2 separate regions of the Homo sapiens genome follow, and region 2 is linked to region 1. The links come from fine-mapping of genetic effects on gene expression. A gene starts in region 1. The other region holds a variant in brackets. All regions are shown on one strand. Distances are between the middles of the regions.

What was found.
Region 2: its variant is fine-mapped to the expression of CKM in whole blood (TOPMed, PIP above 0.99).

What each region holds. Positions count from the first base shown.
Region 1 is chr19:45,317,729-45,327,994 of GRCh38, forward strand. It overlaps CKM (creatine kinase, M-type), which reads right to left and starts at 5,147. Exons shown (of 8, transcript NM_001824.5): 1 at 5,093-5,147; 2 at 1,793-2,003; 3 at 97-251. The coding sequence starts at 1,985. RefSeq lists an enhancer at 5,871-6,113.
Region 2 is chr19:45,292,245-45,302,510 of GRCh38, forward strand. MARK4 (microtubule affinity regulating kinase 4) reads left to right here. Exons shown (of 17, transcript NM_001199867.2): 14 at 2,105-2,208; 15 at 5,432-5,710; 16 at 7,567-7,611; 17 at 10,130-10,266. Among named protein-coding and RNA genes, the nearest start is that of CKM, 25 kb to the right of the region's middle. The variant G/C (reference allele first, on the strand shown) is at 4,473.

The DNA.
Region 1 (10,266 bases):
CTCTCTCTGTCTCTGTATTTCTCTGTCTCCCCCCATTTCTCCTGTGATCTCTCTCCTCCTCACCCCTCGGCCCTCCCCTCCTGCGCAGACACCGACCTTGAGGTTTTCATGGTTGAGGTCAGTCTTGTGCTTGTCAGTGGGTTTGTAGCCCCCGTGGCGATCCGAGATGATGGGGTCAAAGAGTTCCTTGAAAACTTCGTAGGACTCCTCATCACCAGCCACGCAGCCCACGGTCATGATGAAGGGGTGACCTGGAGGGGTGGGGGTGAGGTCAGAGCTGCTTGTCCCCAGCAAACAGGGCGTGGGCTTGTGGGCTCAGTGGAGCCTGTGTGGACATGTGTGTCGGGATGGGGGCGGGTACATTCAATACCTCTGGGTGGGAATTGAGAATCATAAGGGTTGGGCACAGTGGCTCATGCCTGCAATCCCAGCACTTTGGGAGGGTGAGGCGGGTGAATCTCTTGAGGTCAGGAGTGTGAGACCAGCCTGGCCAACAGGGTGAAACCCCATCTCTGCTAAAAATACAAAAATTAGCTGGGTGTGGGGCACACACCTGTAATCCCAGCTACTCAGGAGGCTGAGGCATGAGAATTGCTTGAACCAAGGGAGTGGAGGTTGCAGTGAGCCAAGATCACACCACTGCACTCCAGCCTGGGTGACAGAGCAAGACTCTGTCTCCAAAGGAAAAAAAAAAAAAGAGAGAACACTGAGGACTGGTGGGAACTGGGAGGGAAGGCTGGGAGAGGTCAAGGTGGCTGGGAGGGGTCAAGGTGGGAGAGAAGAAAGAGTGCTGGGGGCGGGGTCAAAGGAGAAAGGGGAGCTTCAGAGGGTACATGGTGCTAAAAGCATCAGCACCTCGGAAACATTAGCACCCAAAGTCATGACATCTTAGCCTGAAATGTTAGGATCTCAGGCTACCACCGTACCACAGAGGGTCAGGAGGGTAAGAGACTTGAAAGACCCTCTTGTTTCCCAGTGGAAAAACAGGGGCCAGGAGAGAGGGGCTTCTCCCCGGCATCACACAGTGAGCTGGATGTGAGGGGCACTAGAGCCTCCCCTCCACTCCCAGCTCTCTTCGCCTTGCAATGTCCTTTGAGAAACAACCATAACATTAATAACATCCCCTGTCAGATTCTTTTTTTTTTTTTTTGAGACAGGGTCTCACTCTGTGGCTGGAGTACAGTGGCGCGATCTCGGCTTACTGCAACCTGCACCTCCCAGGCTCAAGCGATCCTCCCACCGCAGCCTCCTGAGTAGCTTGGACCACAAGCCCTCATCACCACACTTGGCTAATTTTTTTGTATTTTTTGTAGAGACAGGGTCTTGCTATGTTGCTCAGGCTGGTCTCAAACTCCTGGCCTCAAGTGATCCTCCCACCTGGGCCTCCCAAAGTGCTGGGATTACAGGCATGAGCCACTGCACCTGGCCCCCCTGTCAGAGCTTGAGCACTCACTTGGTGCCAGGTGCCACTCTAAGCACTGCACAGCCATTGACTTGTGTTTTCACAACGTGGGCGCCCATTTTTCAGATGAGGAGACTGAGGTTCAGGAGGTGAACCGACCTCCTTGGGGATCTCACATTATTCTCGTGCATGTTTATTGCGTGGTTTGCTGAGTACCTCGCACTGTCCCAAGCCTTTATGTATATTAATGCATTGATTCCCACAACAGCCCCATTTTACAGATGAGAAAACTGAGGCCCCCCCCCCTTCAAGGGTGGTGGGATTGGGGCATGGCCGGCAGCCTCCAGAGCCCCCATGTAGCCCCTTCAGTGCTCCACTGGGGAGGCTCACCTGGGTTGTCCACTCCTGTCTGGATGACATCGTCTACAGTGAAGCCAGATGGAGTCTCCTTGTCCCGCAGCTTCTTGTAGAGTTCAAGGGTCAGTACCTTGGCCATGTGGTTGTTATGTTTGCTGAGGTCGGGGTACTCCTCCTCAGGCTTGTAATTCAGCTTGAACTTGTTGTGGGTGTTACCGAATGGCATGGTGGCGGTGTAGGAGACCTGATGGGCAGGGCAGGAGGGGAAGATTGAAGATTAGCTGGCATCTTTTTTCTTCTTCTTCTTCTTTTTTTTTTTTTGAGACGGAGTCTCGCTCTGTCACCCAGGCTGGAGTGCAGTGGCACGATCTCGGCTCACTGCAAGCTCCACCTCCTGGGTTCACACCATTCTCCCGCCTCAGCCTCCCGAGTAGCTGGGAATACAGGCGCCCGCCACCACGCCGGCTCATTTTTTGTATTTTTAGTAGAGACGGGGTTTCACCATGTTAGCCAGGATAGTCTTGATCTCCTGACCTTGTGATCCGCCCGCCTCGGCCTCCCAAAGTGCTGGGATTACAGGCGTGAGCCACTGCACCCGGCCTTTTCTTCTTTTTTTTGAGATGGAGTCTCACTCTGTTACCCAGGTTGGAGTGCAGTGGCGAGACCTCGGCTCACTGCAGCCTCCACCTCCCAGGTTCAAGAGATTCTCCTGTCTCAGCCTCCTGAGTAGCTGGGATTACAGGCGCACACCACCATGCCTGGCTAATTTTTTTGTATTTTTATTAGAGATGGGGTTTCACCATCTCTACTGGTTGGCCAGGCTGGTCTCGAACTCCTGGCCTCAAGTGATCCACCCGCCTCGGCCTCCCAAAGTGCTGGGATTACAGGCGTGAGCCACTGTGCCCCGCCTAGCTCGCATCTTGCAGACAGCAGCAAGAGAACTGGGCAAGGCGTTGGGGTCAGGCAGGCTGTGTAACTTGGAGCAAGAGAAATCCTCTCTCTGAGCCCCTGTGTCTCAGCAGGAAGGCATCCGGAGTCTTAGATCAAGGGCCTGGCTCTGCCGTATCCCAGTTGGGTGAGCCTGGACTAGTCATTCTTGCTGGAAACTCAATTTCCCCAGGTGGAAAACGGGCCCCTCCCGGAGGCTGGAAAAATATTTTGTGTGGGTAAGAGTGTAGGTTCTGGAATCAGCCCAGGGTTTGATTCCCAGCTCTGCTACCTACAACCAGCTGTGTGGCCAGGGGCAAGTTGCTTAACCTCTGTGCCTCAATTTACTCATCTAGAAAATGAGGATCCTAACAGCACTTGCCGCATGGGAGTGTTGAAAAGATTAAATGTGTGAATACAGGTGTAGCTCTCGGAACAGTGCCTGGTACACAATAAGCATTATTTCACTTAGCTGCTATTATTATTATTATTATTATTATGTTTGAGACAGAGTCTCGCTCTGTCGCCCAGGCTAGAGTGCAGTGGCATAATCTCAGTTCACTGCAACCTCCACCTCCCAGGTTCAAGCAACTATCCTGCTTCAGCCTCCTGAGTAGCTGCAACTACAGGCGTGTGCCACACCTGGCTATTTTTTTTTTTGGTATTTTTAGTAGAGTTGGGGTTTCGCCATGTTGGCCAGGCTGGTCTTGAACTCCTGAACTCAAGTGATCCGCCCACCTCTGCCTCCCAAAGTGCTGAGATTACAGGCATGAGTCACGGCACCTGGCCTGTTGTTGTTATTTTAAAGGTTCGTGCGAGGAGCTGGTGAGAAGGTGGAGGTGAGGGTGCTGCTGGGAGTATGTGAGCAGGTTCTTGGATTATCAATCCAAAGACAAAGGGCTGGGTCGGGGGAGGGCTGGGTAGCTGCCCCCACCTCTGCCTGCTGACAGTTCTCCCACAGGGCTCAGAAGGGAAGAAAAGCTCAGCCTCTGGGTCGTCAGAGGCAGGTTCAAATCCCACCTATGCCATTTCCCTGCTGTGTGACCCCAGGCCAGTCACTAGGCCTCTCTGGACCTCTGTCTCCTGTGAACTGAGCCTGCCCCGTAGGATTGCCAGGATCCTCTGAGCTTGGCCATGAGGTTGGCTGAGCACAGGCCCTGGCATGGAGTTGGAGCCTGGAACCCTGGTGGCTGCTATTATTGTTATTTGTTATTACTACTTTTTTGCAGAGATGGGGTCTCACTATGTTGCCCAGGCTGGTCTGGGACTCCTGGCCTCAAGTGATCCTCCAGCATCGGCCTCCCAAGATGCTGGGATTATGCGTGTGAGCCACTGCGCCAGGTCCTACTGTTATTATTATTTTATTCACTGGACCCAGAAAGGAGAAGGGACCCAGAAAGGAGAAGGGGCCTCCAGCAGCGGTGGGAGACGGGGATGGGAAGCAGGTGGGATTGTGGGAGGGAGATTGGGACCACGGTGAGCTGAAGCCAGGGAAGAGGAACAGGGACCCGCCAAAGACCTTGGGTGCTGCTGTCCAGGGTGGTTATTTTTAGAATCTGGCAACTGCCTGCCATCCCACCCCCAGCTGCTGCCCCGCCCCACCCCCACATTCCGGGGCTCGGCTTGCACCAAGTCAGCAGGCCCAAGACAGGTGGGCCAGGGTGGCTGGGAGGACACGGGTCCAGGCCTCGGGGCTCAAGGACATCCTGGGATGGCAGCCCAGACCCCCTCCCTTCAGAGGATGCCCCCCTAATCCCTGCCAGGGACACCCCAGGAGAGGGCACTGAGGCAGGGTGGTGACCCCCCCCACAAGAGACATAAGCAGAAAGCCCCAGAGCCACACACCCCCACCACCGCAGACTCCCCAGATCACACTGTAAACTAAGTCACACAGTCACACTTCCAAACTCAAGGACATGCCCAGGACACTCATGTGTCCGCTACTAAGTCAGAAACAAGGTCACAGGGACCCACACAGTAGCAAACGCAAAGAAAGCCTGCGACACCTGCTCTTGCAGACTCTGCTAGGCGACAGACACACCTCCCACGGCTTGTGGCGCCAGTGTTGGCGACAAACTGTAATGAACACAGGCCTGGCTCAACAGCCCCTTGCAGGGGGTGACAGTTGGCAGCTGTCAGGACCCCTTTCATCTCGGATCCCTCCCCATAACCCAAGACTTGTGCCGCAGAAATCACAGGTCCCAGTGGGGGGTTCAGGCAGCCTCACAGATGGAGGGGCCTCCCAGACACACAAGGGTCAACCTTCCCACGCACCGACCTGCCTTTGTATAGGAGGATGTTGGTGGAGCAAGGGGTGACACACAGACCCTTTCCCAAGCCAAGCCTCTAGCACCCACAGAAATCCCCTACTCTGGCCCCCACCCAGATTCCCGCCCCGTGCAGTACCTGGCTGGGCTGGGCTGAAGGGGGGCTGTCTGTATCCTGGAGGTGACACTGACCCAAAGGAAGGGCCAGCAGCCGTGGCCTTATATAGGGGGACCTAGGCTGTGCTATTGGCTGGGAGGGGTTGTCCCCAGGGAGGAGTTCTGGAGGGCAGCTGAGCCTCTCACCTCCCTGCTCCCGCACCATACCCACCCTGAACCCAGGCATGCTTTGCGCCCAGCCCCATGGCCTTGTATGGGCTGAGCCGCCCCAGGGGCTGGGCTCACGCCCCCCCACCAAGCTGATACCCTGACCAAGTGCTGAGTTGGGCTGGCGGTGGGGACAGCTGGCCCCCCGCCGGGAACATGGGACGGTGGCTGGGAACGTCCCAAGCACGTAGAAGCCACCGTCCCCTGGCCCCTGAGTCTCCTTCAGCCACCAGCCCTTCCTGTGGCCCTCGGCTCCCCCTGTGCCCCCTGGGCCCTCACCCCTACCCGAGTCCCAGCGGCACCTCGGGGAACCAAGGTGTGGCTCCAGGAGGAGCAGATACCCTGTGAGCTGGAGGAAGCAGAGGCCGGGAGAAGGACCAATTGCAATGGAGGGCAGTCTAACCCCAGAAACCCGCGCTTGGGCGCCCCTTCCTCCTAGGGACTGAGTGGAGGGGAAACTGAGGCTGGCTGAGTTGGAGAGATTCAAACTCAGGGCAAGGGTGGGAGGCGGTGGTCACCCTCCCCCCCACTTAACCCTCGCCCCCTCGGTGCCACTGGGAGATTTCCGCTGTGCGGGGGACAGGGAGGGTCTCGGTCGCCGGGAAAGGAGTTATTTTTAGAGGGCGCTTTGCTGTCTCCTCTGCCGCAAAGGCCGAGACCCGAGGCGCTGGGTATGGGGGGGTTCGGGGGCAGGTGTTGGAGGGGGGTTCGCCACGTGTCCTGGTTAATTATAACCGGGCGTCTCGGGTGTCCTCGGGCCTCGCCTCCTTACAAGGGCAGCCACGGGGCCCTGGGTGGCCGCTCCCACCTCCCGGGGAAGGGGGCTGGGCAGCGACGCCGTTCAGAGCGCGGGCGCCAGACTCGCGCAGATCTGGGCAGAGCAAGCGCTCTCGGCGCCTCGGCTGTGAGCAAGGACTTCCAGGGCTGAGAGGGGGGTTCTGTGGAGGAGAGTACAGTATAGAGGAAGCCGCTTTCTCCTCCTGGGACGCGCCAGGATTGCAGGCTGATCGGGTCTCCTCCTCCAGGGAGCTCCCAGGATTGCGACGAAGAAAAGAATGTCCCTTCCCTCTGAGTTCCTCCCTATCCCAGGGTCTCCTGGGTCTCCTTCACATCTTCTTAGGCAGGTGAGGACTGGCTTAGAGAAAGGGAGCCTCTGTGCCTCTCCCTCAGACTCCTGATCTGAGGGGGGAGGGGAGAGGGGTGCTTTAGAAATATTTACATGGGGCCCAGCCCTTTCCCAGCAAGCTCAGATTGCCGAGGGTCTCCTTCACGGTTACGGAAACTGAGGCCCAGAAAACCAAATGGAACTGGTCTCGAAACAGGGATCTATCAGGCACTTCCTGAGGCTACAACAAAACACAAAACCCCCGCCGTCCTGGAGGTGATAGTGCAAGAGGGTCACAGATGAGGGGACGGCACAGCAGCAGGGGAGGTCGAGGCAGGCCTCTTTGGGAAGATGACATCTGAGCAGAGACCTGAAGGAGAACAGGGAGCCAGCCATGTGCGGCTCTGGGGGGAACAGCAGGTGCAAAGGCGCTGAGGTGAGAATGGCTGGGCACATCTGAGGACAGACAGGAAGGAGGCCAGGGGACTGGAGCAGATGGGGCCAAGGAGAGAGTGGGAGGAAGAAGATGAGGTTGGAGGGGAGACAGGAGCAGACCCATGGTGCCCTAGGGGCTGTGGGAGGAGTTTTAATCCCATTGTGATTGACAGTGAAAATGTTAGATGGGCCGGGCACAGTGGCTCAGGCCCGTAATCCCAGCACTTTGGGAGGCAGAGGCGGAGGCGGGTGGATCACTTGAGGCCAGGAGTTCAAGACCAGCCTGGCCAACATGGTGAAACCCCATCTCTACTAAAAGTACAAAAATTAGCCTGGCATGGTGACACACGCCTGTAATCCCAGCTAGCCAGGAGGCTGAGGCATAAGAATTGCTTGAACCTAGGAGGTGGAGGTTGCAGTGAGCTGAGATGGCACCATTGCCCTCCAGCCTGAGTGACAGAGCAAGACTCAGTCTCACAAAAAAAAAAAAAAAGAAAAGAAAAGAAAAAGAAAATGTTAAATGAACCAGGTATAGAAAGACAAACATCACAAGTTATTTGTGGGATCTAAAAATCAAAACAAGGAGGCTGAGGCAGGAGGATTGCTTGAACCCAGGCAGTCGAGGCTGCAGTGAGCTGTGATCGAGCCACTGCTGCACTCCATCCTGGGCAAGAGAGTGAGACCCTGTCTCACACACACAAAAATTAATTAAAATAACTAAAGGAGTATAATTGGATTGTTTGTAATATAAAGGATAAATGCTTGAGAAGATGGATACCCCATTCTCCACGATGTGATTATTACAAGTTGCATGCCTGTATCAAAACATTTCATGGCCGGGTGCAGTGGCTCACGCCTGTAATCCCAGCACTTTGGGAGGCCGAGGTGGGCAGATCACCTGAGGTCGGGAGTTCAAGACCAGCCTGATCAACGTGGAGAAACCCTGTCTCTACTAAAAATACAAAATTAGCCGGGGTGGTGGCACATGCCTGTAATCCCAGCTACTCGGTAGGCTGAGGCAGGAGAATCGCTTGAACTCGGGAGGCAGAGGTTTCTGCGGGCCGAAATCGCGCCATTGCACTCTAGCCTGGGCAAAAAGAGTGAAACTCCATCTCAAAAAAAAAAAAAAAAAAAAGAACAAAACGTTTCATATACCCCATAAATATACACACCTACTAAATACCTACAAAAAATTTTTTAGAATAATTTTTTAAAATATTAAATGGAAAAAATCATCATCATCATCCCACTGTGAGACTGACAGGAGGCACTGAGGGTCATAAGCAGGGAAGAGGCTGGATCCATGCCACACGCATTTTGGGTGGCACGGTCCAGCCACACCTTGTGGGAGGGTTTGTTTTTTTTTTTTTTTTTTTGAGATGGAGTCTTGCTCTATCACCAGGCAGGAGTGCAATGGTGCGATGTCAGCTCACTGCAACCTCCGCCTCCCAGGTTCAAGCGATTCTCCTGCCTCAGCCTCCCGAGTAGCTGGGACTACAGGCATGGGCCACCACGCTCTGCTAACTTTTATATTTTTAGTAGAGAAGGGGTTTTGCCATGTTGGCCAGGCTAGTCTCAGACTCCTACCTCAGGTGATCCACCCACCTCGGCCTCCCAGAGTGCTGGGATTACAGGCGTGAGGCACCCTGCCGGGCCCATTGCACATTCTTTTTAGCCACACAGTGCCAGAAGCCTTTTCTATGTTCGGGGATTCCCCACTGTAAGCCCTCCTCCTTTGGAGAAGCCAAAGATGCCAGAAACTCAATTTCCCAGAATCCCTTGCAGCAATGGTCCAGGCCAGTGACCTGGGCTGAGCCAATCAAACGCTCCAGCAGGACCTTGTGCCGTGAGCTCCCTCTGCTTTGAGTCTTAAAGAAACAGTTGGCCTTGGGGAGCTTTACAACCCTCATCACGTATCTTCATCCCACCCCCCAGAGCCCGACTGTCAATCCGACCTCTGCCCCTCCACTGCCCACTCTAGCTCAAGACCGCCTCCACTGTCCCTCCTGACCCAACTTCCTCCCTGGACTCCTGTCCCAGTCTTTGCCATTCCCACCTAAACCCTACCTGCTGACCTCCCCTCCTCAGAGCTTGCCATGGCTCCCCAGTGCCCTCAAGGTAAATGAGTATTTGTTGACTAAATAAATAATAGTAACTGTATCTGGCAGATGTAGGCGAGAGTAACCACTACCCAGCTTAAATAGAAAGGACTCTGCTATTGGCTGGGCGCAGTGGCTCACGCCTGTAATCCCAGCACTTTGAGAGGCCGAGGCGGGCGGATCACGAGGTTAGGAGATCGAGACTATCCTGGCTAACACGGTGAAACCCTGTCTCTACTACAAAAATATACAAAAAAAAAAAAATTAGCCGTGCGTGGTGGCAGGCGCATGTCGTCCCAGCTACTCCGGGGCCTGAGGCAGGAGAATGGTGTGAACCCGGGAGGCGGAGTTGCAGTGAGCCGAGATCGCACCACTGCACTTCAGCCTGGGCGACAGAGCGAGACTCCATCTCAAAAAAAAAAAAAAAAAAAAGGACTGTACTATCATGTATTAGGCACTGACAAAATCGTTGGAAGGGCTGAAGGAACACTGCTCGGGCCCCAGAACTACTTTCCTACTTTCCCTCTGGAAAATCTAGTCTTTAGCTTTCCAGCCTCTTCATTGACAGGAGAATGTGCTCGAAGGAGGTTAACATGGACATTAAACAGCCACTCCACAAAGAAGCTTTTGTTTGTTTGTTTGTTTGTTTAGACATGGGTTCTTGATGGGGTCTCGCTATGTTGCTCAGGCTGGAGCACAGTAGTTATTCACAGGCACAATCAGAGTGCACTGCAGCCTCCAATTCCAAGCCTCAAGCAATCCTCCCGCTTCAGCCTCCCGAGTAGCTGGGACTACAGGCGCGCACCACCACTCCAGGCCCTGACAGTTAACTTTTATTGAATACACCTGTATGTCAAGTACTGTGCTAAGTGCTTTACATATGTTGACTTATTTAACGTCCCCAACAATAAGGCTCAGAGAGGTTAAGTGACTTGCCCAAAGTCACACAGCTGGAAGGGGGCAGAACTGGGAATCAAACAGGTACAAGGCTGCCAAGAATGGATTCAGGCTTTGGTGGAAATAACTTCCAGGCTTCTCCCCGACGTCAGACTGTATTGTCAGCCTCTTTCTAGGTCATCAGGCTCTAGTGTACCCACTTCCCCAACCCATCTCCCATCACCCCAGCCATCTGACTTCAGGGTCCAAGGACTTTAATGGGTATTCACTAGTTTAATTTTCCAACAGTCCTATGAAGTGAGTACTGCCAATTTTTTTTTAATTTACTTTTCTTCTGGGAGTCTAGAAGGTACTGCCGTTTTTACAAATCAGGAAAGTAAGGCTGGCCCAGAGAGGTTGCAACACTTATCGAAAGTCACACAGCAGGGAAGTAGCAGAACAAGACTGGACTAG
Region 2 (10,266 bases), 25 kb before region 1:
CTGGGCAACATGGTGAGATCCTATCTCTTAAAAAAGAGAAAAAGGGTGGAGGCAGTTTGAGAAAGTGGCCGGGACTCTGAAGCCACGTAGAGTTTGAATTACATTAATGAGCCGTGTGACCTTGGGCAAGTAACTTCACCTCTCTGATCTTTGATATCTCACTATGTGAAATGGGCTCATTAAAGAACCTGGGTCATTGTGAGGATCTTGTAAGATCTCATACGTGAAGTACTTCACATACTGGCACAGTAAGCACTCAGTGAATGAGAGCTATTGTTATTGCTAAACGAAACCCACACCTTAAGAAGGTAAAAAAGGAAAAGCAAATAAACCTCAAAGAAAGTAGAAGGGACCGGAATTGGTGGCTCATGCCTGTAATCCCAGCAGTTCGGGAGGCTGAGGCAGGAGGATTGCTTGAGCCCAGGAGTTCAAGACCAGCCTGGACAACATAGACCCTGTCTCTGCCAAAAATAAAAATTAGCTAAGTGTTGTGGCACATGCCTGAGGTTCTAGCTACTTGGGAGGCTGAGGTGAAAGGATCCACTTGAGGCCAGGAGGTCGAGGCTGCAGTGAGCCATGATCACCCCACTGCACTCCAGCCTAGGCATCAGAACAAGACCCCATCTCAAAAAAAGTAGAAGGGAGGAGGCATTAAAGAGAATAAATCAGTGAAGGAGAAAGAAGAGGTACAATAAAGCAACAAAACCTAAAGTTGGTTTTTTGAAAAGATTAATAAAATCAGTCTGGGCGTGGTGGCTCATGCCTGTAATCCCAGCACTTTGGGAGGCTGAGGCGGGTGGATCACTTGAGGTCAGGAGTTTGAGACCAGCCTGGCCAGCATGGTGAAACCCCATCTCTACCAAAAATACAAAAAATTAGCTGGATGTGGTGGTCCACACCTGTAATCCCAGCTACTCGGGAGACTAAGGCAGGTTCACTTGAATCTGGGAGGTGGAGGTTGCAGTGAGCTGAGATCATGCCATTGCACTCCAGCCTGGGCAAAATGAGTGAAACTCTGTCCAAAAAAATAAATAAATAAATAAAATCCAATGGACCCCTGGTAAAAATCAATTAAGGAAAAAAGACAGCAAACATGAATCACCAGTATCCACAATGAAAAGGGGAACTTTGTTCTAACATTAAAAGATAGTAAGATGATATTAGGAACTACTTTGTGCCAATAAATTTAACAGCTTAGATGAAATGGACACATTACTTTAAAAACACACTGTATCAAAACTGACACAAGAAGAAATAGAAAACCTGAACAGTCTTATATTCTTGTTAAAGAAATTGAATTCGTAACTGAAAACCTTCCCTATAAAGAAAATTTTTGGCTTGGATGACTCCCACCAGTGGAATTCTTCCAAACACTTAAAGAAGAAATAACACTAACCTTAGACAAACTTCCAGAGAATAGAAAAAGAGGGCTCTCTTCCTAACATGTTTATGAGGCAGCATAATCCTGATATTCCCTGTGTTCCCAGAGCTCACAGCCCAGTATGGGATGGGGACATATATGAGAACAGACATTGACAGCACAGTGATTGAAGCTGCAGTGGGGAGCCCAGGGGCCTGTGGGAACCCAAAGGAGGAGGCACGTGACTCAGCCTGGGGCCGGGGGTGGTGGTAGATTATGAACTGACACCTGAAAGATATGTAGGAGTGAGTCAGGGGAAAAGGTAGGAGTAATGTTCTAACAGGTGAGACAGCCAGTGCACAGGCTAGTCACAGTGACAGAATGTGGCATGAATAAGTACATTAGCAAACGTTTGGTGTGGCTGGGCTGGACCTCAAGAAGGTGGGCATTGCTGGGAGAAGAGCGGTGGACAAGGATGCCCCCTGGAAACCTTCCCTGCCTCGTTTTCCCTCAGTGCCCCCCTCTTCTCCGGTCTCCAGGGGTCTCCCCTGACTCAGCCTCGGTGGCTGGGATTACTCATGAACCTTTCACATCTTTGGGACCTTTCACCATCTCCTACTCACCCTGGGTTCCCACATGAGCCCCTGACTTATTCATCGATGGGGAGGGCAGAGAAGGGAAGAGGGAGAAGCTCAGGGGCATGTCTTCACCCCCTCACTCCCTTCCTGGCTGTGTCTCCTGCAGAACAACCTCCCTCCTAGCATGATGACCCGCAGAAACACCTACGTTTGCACAGAACGCCCGGGGGCTGAGCGCCCGTCACTGTTGCCAAATGGGAAAGAAAACAGGTACGGAGGGGGCAGCAACAGGGTGAGGGGTGGGAAGTAGGGGGTAGGTGAACAGGACCTCCCTTGATCTGAGATGATAGGCATTGGAGGCTGGTGCCATGGGGACCAGAGAGTGAGTGTATCTGCCCTGCCCTTGGCAGAATCGACCCATGTACCCCCCTGAAAATCCTCCCCACTTAATTAATTAGTCTTAAGCACCAGGAAAGCAGTTGGCCCTGTTCTCCGCCTACAAGCCTTGGGAACCTGAATTGATTTTTTGAATGATCCATTTTTAGAACTCGAGAGAAGCCCCAGAATGTCACAGCTTCAGCGTCATCTGGTTGGCTGGTTTTCCGGCTTGTTGGCCTGAGTCTGTGAGGTCTCTTCCAGCTGGCAAGGGAGGGAAACCAGTTCAGACTGGCTGGAGCAGAGAGAGGGAAGGGATTGGTTCACATCACAGGTCAAGGCCAGCTAGAATGGGGCCAGCTCCAGGATGAGGACACTGCCCCCCACCAGGGCTGTAGGGCAGGTTGATGGCCAACACCAGGGCACACTCTGGGATGCACCTGATTAGTGGGTGCAGGTGTTCCCACTGGGTGTGGGCAGAGGAATGGGGTAGTTAACAGTCACAAATCTGTCCAGGCACAGTGGCTCATGCCTGTAATACCAGCACTTTGGGAGGCTGAGGCAGGTGGATCAAGAAGTCAGGAGATCGAGACCATCCTGGCTAACATGGTGACACCCCGTCTCTACTAAAAATACCAAAAAAAAAAAAAAATTAGCTGGGTGCAGTGGTGGGCACCTGTAGTCCCAGCTACTCTGGAGGCAGAGGCAGGACAATGGCGTGAACCTGGAAGGCGGAGTTTGCAGTGAGCCGAGATCACGCCACTGCACTCCAGCCTGGGCAACAGAGCGAGACTCCATCTCAAAAAAAAAAAGTCACGATTCTGTGAATACTCAGTTCTGAGTTCGAATCTTACCTCTGTGCTCACACTGCTAGCAGAATGACCGGGTAAATCCCTGTGCCTCTGTTTCCTCCTCGGTAAAATGGGCTTGATGCTGGCCGGGCATGGTGGCTCACACCTGTAATCCCAGCACTTTGTGAGGCCGAGGTGGGCAGATCACCTGAGGTCAGGAGTTCGAGACCAGCCTGGCCAACATGATGAAACCCTGTCTCTACTAAAAATACAAAAATTAGCCAGGAACGATGTCATGTGCATGTAATCCCAGCTACTCAGAAGGCTGAATGAGGCAGGAGAATCGCTTGAACCTGGGAGGCAGAGGTTGCAGTGAGCTGGGATTGCGCCACTGTACTCCAGCCTGAGCCACACAGCAAGAATCCGTCTCATAAAAAAAAGGGCTGATGCTGTCCACTTCCAGGCCCCATTATAGAGATGCAGTAGAGATCAGGTGTGTCCTGTACCTGGCACTGGGTCTGATGCTTAGGAGGCCTTCATTCAGTGACTTGAGAGTGCTTTTTTTTGGTGGTTATCAAATAACAATAGTGAACATTCATGAAGCAGCAGCTACATGCCAGGCTTCTATGTCTATTGCCTGGCTCAGTGCCCCTAACAACTCTGTGAGGTAGATCCTAATATCTCCATTTTACAGCTGAGGACATAAGGCACAGAGAGGTTAAGTAACTTATCCAAGGCCACACAGCTGGTAAGTCAAGAAGCAGATTCCAGACTTGACTCCAGAATCTTATTTGTAATCACTGTAGTACATGGCCTTCCAGTTCTGCTCAAGAGATAGTGGAACAGTTAAATTACAGACTCAGACAAAAAAAATCAAAAATTAAAAAAAAATTTAAAAACAACAAAAAATAAAAAGTATAGACTCAGCTAGCTGCTGTAATAAAAACAAAGAGATCCCAGGGTAGAGTAATTTAAATAAAAAGGACGTTTAGTCCGGAGGGTCCTCCAAGGACCCAGGTAAGTTCTTCCAGCCCCAAAATGAGTTTCCAGCTCTGGGACTGAGGCCGCTGCACCAGCAGCCATCATTTCCCAATCAGGAAGAAGTGGGGAAAGAGTAGGGGACAAGCAACAACTCTTTGTAAAGGCGTCACCCAGAGATGGTACAGAGCACTTCTGCTTATATCCCATTGGCCGGAGCATGGTCACATAACCATCTCTAGCTGCAAGAGAGTCTGGGAAATGTAGTCTCTGGCTGGGTGGCCATGTGCAGTGCTCATACTCTTAGGGGTTTGGTTACCAAGAACGAAACAGGGAGGATGGATTCTAAGGGAGAAGTAACAGCCTCTGCCACAATCAGGATTCTTCTCT[G/C]AGATCCAGGCTGGGCCTGGAGTCCCTGGGAGGATAGAAATTGGAGGTCTGGGCTGGGCGCAGTGGCTCACACCTGGAATCCCAGCACTTTGGGAGGCCAAGGCCAGTGGATCACCTGAGGTGAGGAGTTTGAGACCAGCCTGGCCAACATGGTGAAACCCCATCTCTCCTGAAAATACATAAACTACCCAGGCGTGGTGCTGCATGCCTATAGTCCCAGCTACTCAGGAGGCTGAGGCAGGAGAATCACTTGAACCCAGGAGGCAGAGGTTGCAGTAGCCAAGATTGCCCCATGGCCCTTCAGCCTAGGTGACAGAGTGAGACTCTGTCTCAAAAAAAAAAAAAAAAAAAATTAGCCAGGCATGGTGGCACACGCTTGTAATCCCAGCTACTCAGGAGGGTGAGGCAGGAGAATTGAACTCAGGAGATGGAGGTCTGGCCCCTGCTGTCGACTAGGAGGGTCCGAGGGGCTGGAGGAGGGTCCTGGGACAGTGGAACCCCCACTGCCCAGATTACCATAGTGAATACAGGTATCCTTGACCTTTACATCTATCCCTTTCCTGATTTTAGATGGTGAGAGTTCAGATAGCAAAGTGTTTGCCAAGTTGATTTGGTTCCTGAGGTTTCGGCAAATAGCAAGGAAGTCACCCAAAAATGTCTGTGCATCTATTCAGTTGCTGCGTTTAGAGAGAGGAGAGTTGTGATAGGAGATGATTTGGAGCGGGTAGAGTTTGAAGAAGGGACAGTTTGAAGGAGGGGTAATAGGAGAGGAGAGAGTCAGTAAAATAATGCTAGGATTGTATAGTGCACAGCCTGCACAACTGTACGTTGCAGCCCTGTCTCTGAGTTCCAGGCTGGTTGCAGTCCCTGGTCTCAGGACAGGAATGTGAAGAATCAAAGGGACTGGGGCCCTGGCCTGCCTCAGTCCCCCACCCTGACTTGTCTGTCTCTGCCCACAGCTCAGGCACCCCACGGGTGCCCCCTGCCTCCCCCTCCAGTCACAGCCTGGCACCCCCATCAGGGGAGCGGAGCCGCCTGGCACGTGGTTCCACCATCCGCAGCACCTTCCATGGTGGCCAGGTCCGGGACCGGCGGGCAGGGGGTGGGGGTGGTGGGGGTGTGCAGAATGGGCCCCCTGCCTCTCCCACACTGGCCCATGAGGCTGCACCCCTGCCCGCCGGGCGGCCCCGCCCCACCACCAACCTCTTCACCAAGCTGACCTCCAAACTGACCCGAAGGTGAGCTCCGCGGGGATGGCAGGGGCAGGGCGGGGCGGGGGGCCGATGGGACCTAACCTGTCTTCCACTCTGCTCTGTCTCCTGTACCCCAACATTTCCTCTTCCTCCTCCTCCTCCTCCTCGTTTCCTCCTCCTCCTCCTCCTTTCCTCCTCCCCTGTCACCCCTCACCTCCCTCCTCACACTGCAGGGTTACCCTCGATCCCTCTAAACGGCAGAACTCTAACCGCTGTGTTTCGGGCGCCTCTCTGCCCCAGGGATCCAAGATCAGTAAGTCCCGTCCATGCCCTGTTCTCGCTGGCTCTGCCTCCCTGCCTGCATGTCTGACCTGTGTGTGCGGGCATTGGGAGGGGGCTCTGTGGATGTGAGGGTCTGTGCGTGGGGTCTGGTTGTTCATTTACTCACAGAAGCACAGCCTATGGAGCCAGACTCGGGGGTTCAAATGGCAGCTCTGCCAAGTGACCTTGAGCAAGTCACTCAAGGTCTCTGGGCCTGGTTTTCCTCTTCTGTAAAATGGGTATAGTAATAACAATACCTGTCTCCTAGGGTTATTGTGAGGACTAAATGAAGTGACGTATGGACTGAGCGTAGAACATTGCCTTGGAAAGTGCTTTACATGTGTATTAGTTATTAATTGCTATTATTCATTGAGCCCCTACTGTGTGCCTGGCACTGTCCTAGGCCCTGTAGTAGAGGGTGAGCAAAATGTACAAAACTCCTGCCCTGGCAGACCCAACATTCTACTAAGGGATCTAGACAAAAAACAAAGAAATAAGTAAAATATACTTACTATATAGACTGCTAGGTAGTGCGAAGTAACTAAGAAGAAAAATAGAGTAGGAGCCAAATTTGGTGGCTTATGCTTGTAATCACAGCACTTTGGGAGGCTGAGGCGAGGGGATCACTTGAGCCCAGAAGTTCAAGACCAGCCTGGACAACGTAGCAAGATCCTATCTCTACAAAAAAGTAAATAAATTGGCCGGGCGTGGTGACTGCACCTGTATTCCCATGGAATTGGGAGGCCGAGGCAGGAGGATCACTTGAACGCAGGAGGTCAAGGCTGCTGTGAGCTATGATCATCAGTCTTGGCAACAGAGGGAGAACCTGTCTCTAAAAAAAAAAAAAAAAAAAAAAAAAATTGAACAGGGAGGGGAATAAGGGGTGTGGGGAAGGGATGGGGTGCAGCATTAAATGGGCAGGCCTCTGGATGAGGTGGCTCAGGCCAGCAATCCCAGCACTTTGGACAGATGACTTGAGTCCAGGAGTTTGAGACCAGCCTGGGCAATGTGGCAAAGCCCCATCTCTACAAAACAAAACAAAAAACAAAAAGCAGATGTGGCACGCGCCTGTAGTCCCAGCTACTTCAGGGGCCAAGGCAGGAAGATTGCTTGAGCCTGGGAGGTTGAGGCTGCAGCGAGCTGAGATCACGCCACTCCTGCATGACAGAGTGAGACTCTGTCTCAAAAAAAGAAAAAAGGGCAGGCCTCACGAAGGAGGTGTTGTTTGAGCAAAGCATGAATGTATATGTGAGCGAGGGAGTGTGTGTGTGTGCACACGTGCGTGTGTCTCTCTCTTTCTCTCTGTGGCCACTTATCTATGTAAGGGTGTGTCTCTGCCCACTCCCCTCCCTTTCATCTTCCACATTCTTCAGTATCTTTCCTGTGACCTGCACTAACCATTTCAGAATGAGCCCCGTTATGGGGATGGACAAGGAGATCAAATCCTGACTCCAGGCCCTCACCAGCCCGGAGGGACTGGGGTTGAGGCAGGGGCTGCTTGGAGTCCCAGAGGCAGTGGGTTGCGGGAGGTGGGTTCCCTATGTCCAGATTAGACACTCTGTCCCCCTCCCCTCCCCTAGGGTCGCAGACGAACCTGAGAGAATCGGGGGACCTGAGGTCACAAGGTGAGTGCTTGGGCCTACCCCTGACTGCCACTTCCCCTCTCCTGCCTCAGCACCTCCCGACACTTACCCCAGGGCATTAGATGGGGCCCCAGTCTCATCCTGCAAGGCCAACTTCCTGAAATGCCCTGTGGCCCCAGCCTTCTCTGCCAGCTCCTCTCATTCCCACCCAACCCCAAGCACCTTCCCTTGATCATCTTAAACTTCAGCCTCCGGCTGGGTGCCATGGCCCAAGCCTGTAATCCCAGCACTTTGGGAGTCCAAGGGAGGCAGATCACCTGAGGTCGGGAGTTTGAGACCAGCCTAAGATGGAGAAACCCCGTCGTTACTAAAAATACAAAAATTAGCCGGGCGTAGTGGCGCATGCCTGTAATCCCAACTACTCGGGAGGCTGAGGCAGGAGAATCGCTTGAACCCGGGAGGCAGAGGTTGCGGTGAGCTGGATTGTGCCATCGCACTCCAGCCTGGGTAGCAAGAGTGAAACTCCGTCTGAAAAAAAAAAAAAAAAAAAAAAAAAAGCCTCATCCCATCCACAACTCAACTCCTCTTCTGGTCAATGCCCCCACCTCCTTTTGCCTCTCATCCAGTCATGGCACAATGTTTGCTGGCAGCTCAGGGCCAGCAGGAGGCAAACATCTGTACGGACCCAGATCATGAAGATTTTAGGCTTTGAGGGCCAGGCACCCTGTGTCACGCCTGTTCAGTTGTGCCATTGTAGTGCAAAAGCAGTCATATTCAACACAAAACAAATGGGTATGGCAGTGTTCCAATGAAACTTTATTTACAAAAGCAGACAGCACTGGAGTTTGCCAAGCCCTGGTTTTGTCTGAGTTCCCGGTTTAGAGACCCAAGTGGAAACCGGAGCCTTCCCAGCAGCTGCAACAAACTGCCAGGGCTGACTCTCATTGGTTGGGACTTGGTCACATGCTCATTCCTAAACCAATGCCTGCAGCCAGAGAGGAGAAGTACTCTGGTTGGTCAGACCTGGTCATGTGGTCACCCTTGACCCAAGCACAGTGGCCGGGAAGTAGAATGCTATCATTGGCAGAGCTGAGTCGTGCTCACCCAAGCTGAGGGGCGGCCCCACCGGAACAAGGGAGGCTAGTCCTGGGATGCTCATGTAGAGCAGCACTCTCGTACTTCAGGCGGGACGTTTCTTTGTTGTGCAGGGCCCTCTTGCACATTGGAGAATGTTTTTCATTCCTGACCTACCCCATCCCCAACCTAGTCAGTGCCAGCAGTGCTCCCATCCTAAGACATGTGACAATCAAAAAGCCCCCAGAGGCCGAGCACAGTGGCTTATGCCTGTAATTCCAACAACTCAGGAGGCCAAGGCAGGAGGATCACTTGAGCCCAGGAGGTCGAGGCTGCAGTGAGCTGTGATTGCACTACTGCATTGCAAGACCCTGTCTCAAAAAAACTAAGAAGTGGCCGGGCACTGTGGCTCTCGCCTGTAATCCCAGCACTTTGGGAGGCCAAGGCAGGTGGATCACCTGAGGCCGGGAGTTTAAGACCTGCCTGCCCAACATGGTGAGACTCCGTCTCTACTAAAAATACAAAAATTAGCTGGCCGTGGTGCCTGTTCTCCCAGCTACTTGGGAAGCTGAGGCAGGAGAATTGCTTGAACCCGGGAAGCAGAGGTTGCAGTGGGCCAAGATTGTGTCATTGCCTTCCAGCCTGGGCGACAAGAGCGAAACTCTGTCTCAAAAAAAAAAAAAAAAAAAAAAGCCGGGCGCAGTGGCTCACACCTGTAATCCCAGCACTTTGGGAGGTCGAGGCGGGCAGATCACAAGGTCAGGAGATCGAGACCATCCTGGCTGACACGGTGAAACCGTGTCTCTACTAAAAATACAAAAATTAGCTGGGGCCAGGCGTGGTGGCGCGTGCCTGTAATCCCAACTACTCAGGAGGCTATGGCAGGAGAATCGCTTCAACCCAGGAGGCGGAGGTTGTGGTGAGCCGAGATCGTTCCATTGCACTCCAGCCTGGGTAACAAGAGCAAAACTCCGTCTCAAAAAAAAAAAAAAAAAGAAAAGGAAAAAGAAATTTCTCATTCAAACATTCAAACCATGTGGCCAAGCCAGGCTGGTAAGGCCACTGTGATCTATGCGGTCATTCAGGTCCCCAGGTTATTGCATCCCGATTCCCTGGAGCCCTTGTCATCTTCACAGTTGAGGCTGGCCTGTGCCACTGCTAAGTCCAGCTCCTGGGAGATGTGGGACAGGAGAGCCTGGCACATGCAGGTTCTTTGAAGGAACTGATGTGGATGGCACATCTCACTTCTGCTCATGTCCCAGAATTTACAGACAAGGTCACACCTGGTTGCAAGGGAGGCTGGAAAGTGTGGTCTCTAGCTGGGCAGCTCTGTATCCAGTTGAAACTGTCGCTGGGGTAACAGGGGAAGATGTTTTTTGAGGGGATGGCTAGGAATGTGTCCCGAATTGGGAAGAGTTGTCCCTTCAGCCCTCCACCACATTCCTCTTCGCTCCCATCTCTGACCCCTGACATCTTCTCGCCTCAGTTGCCATCTACCTTGGGATCAAACGGAAACCGCCCCCCGGCTGCTCCGATTCCCCTGGAGTGTGAAGCTGACCAGCTCGCGCCCTCCTGAGGCCCTGATGGCAGCTCTGCGCCAGGCCACAGCAGCCGCCCGCTGCC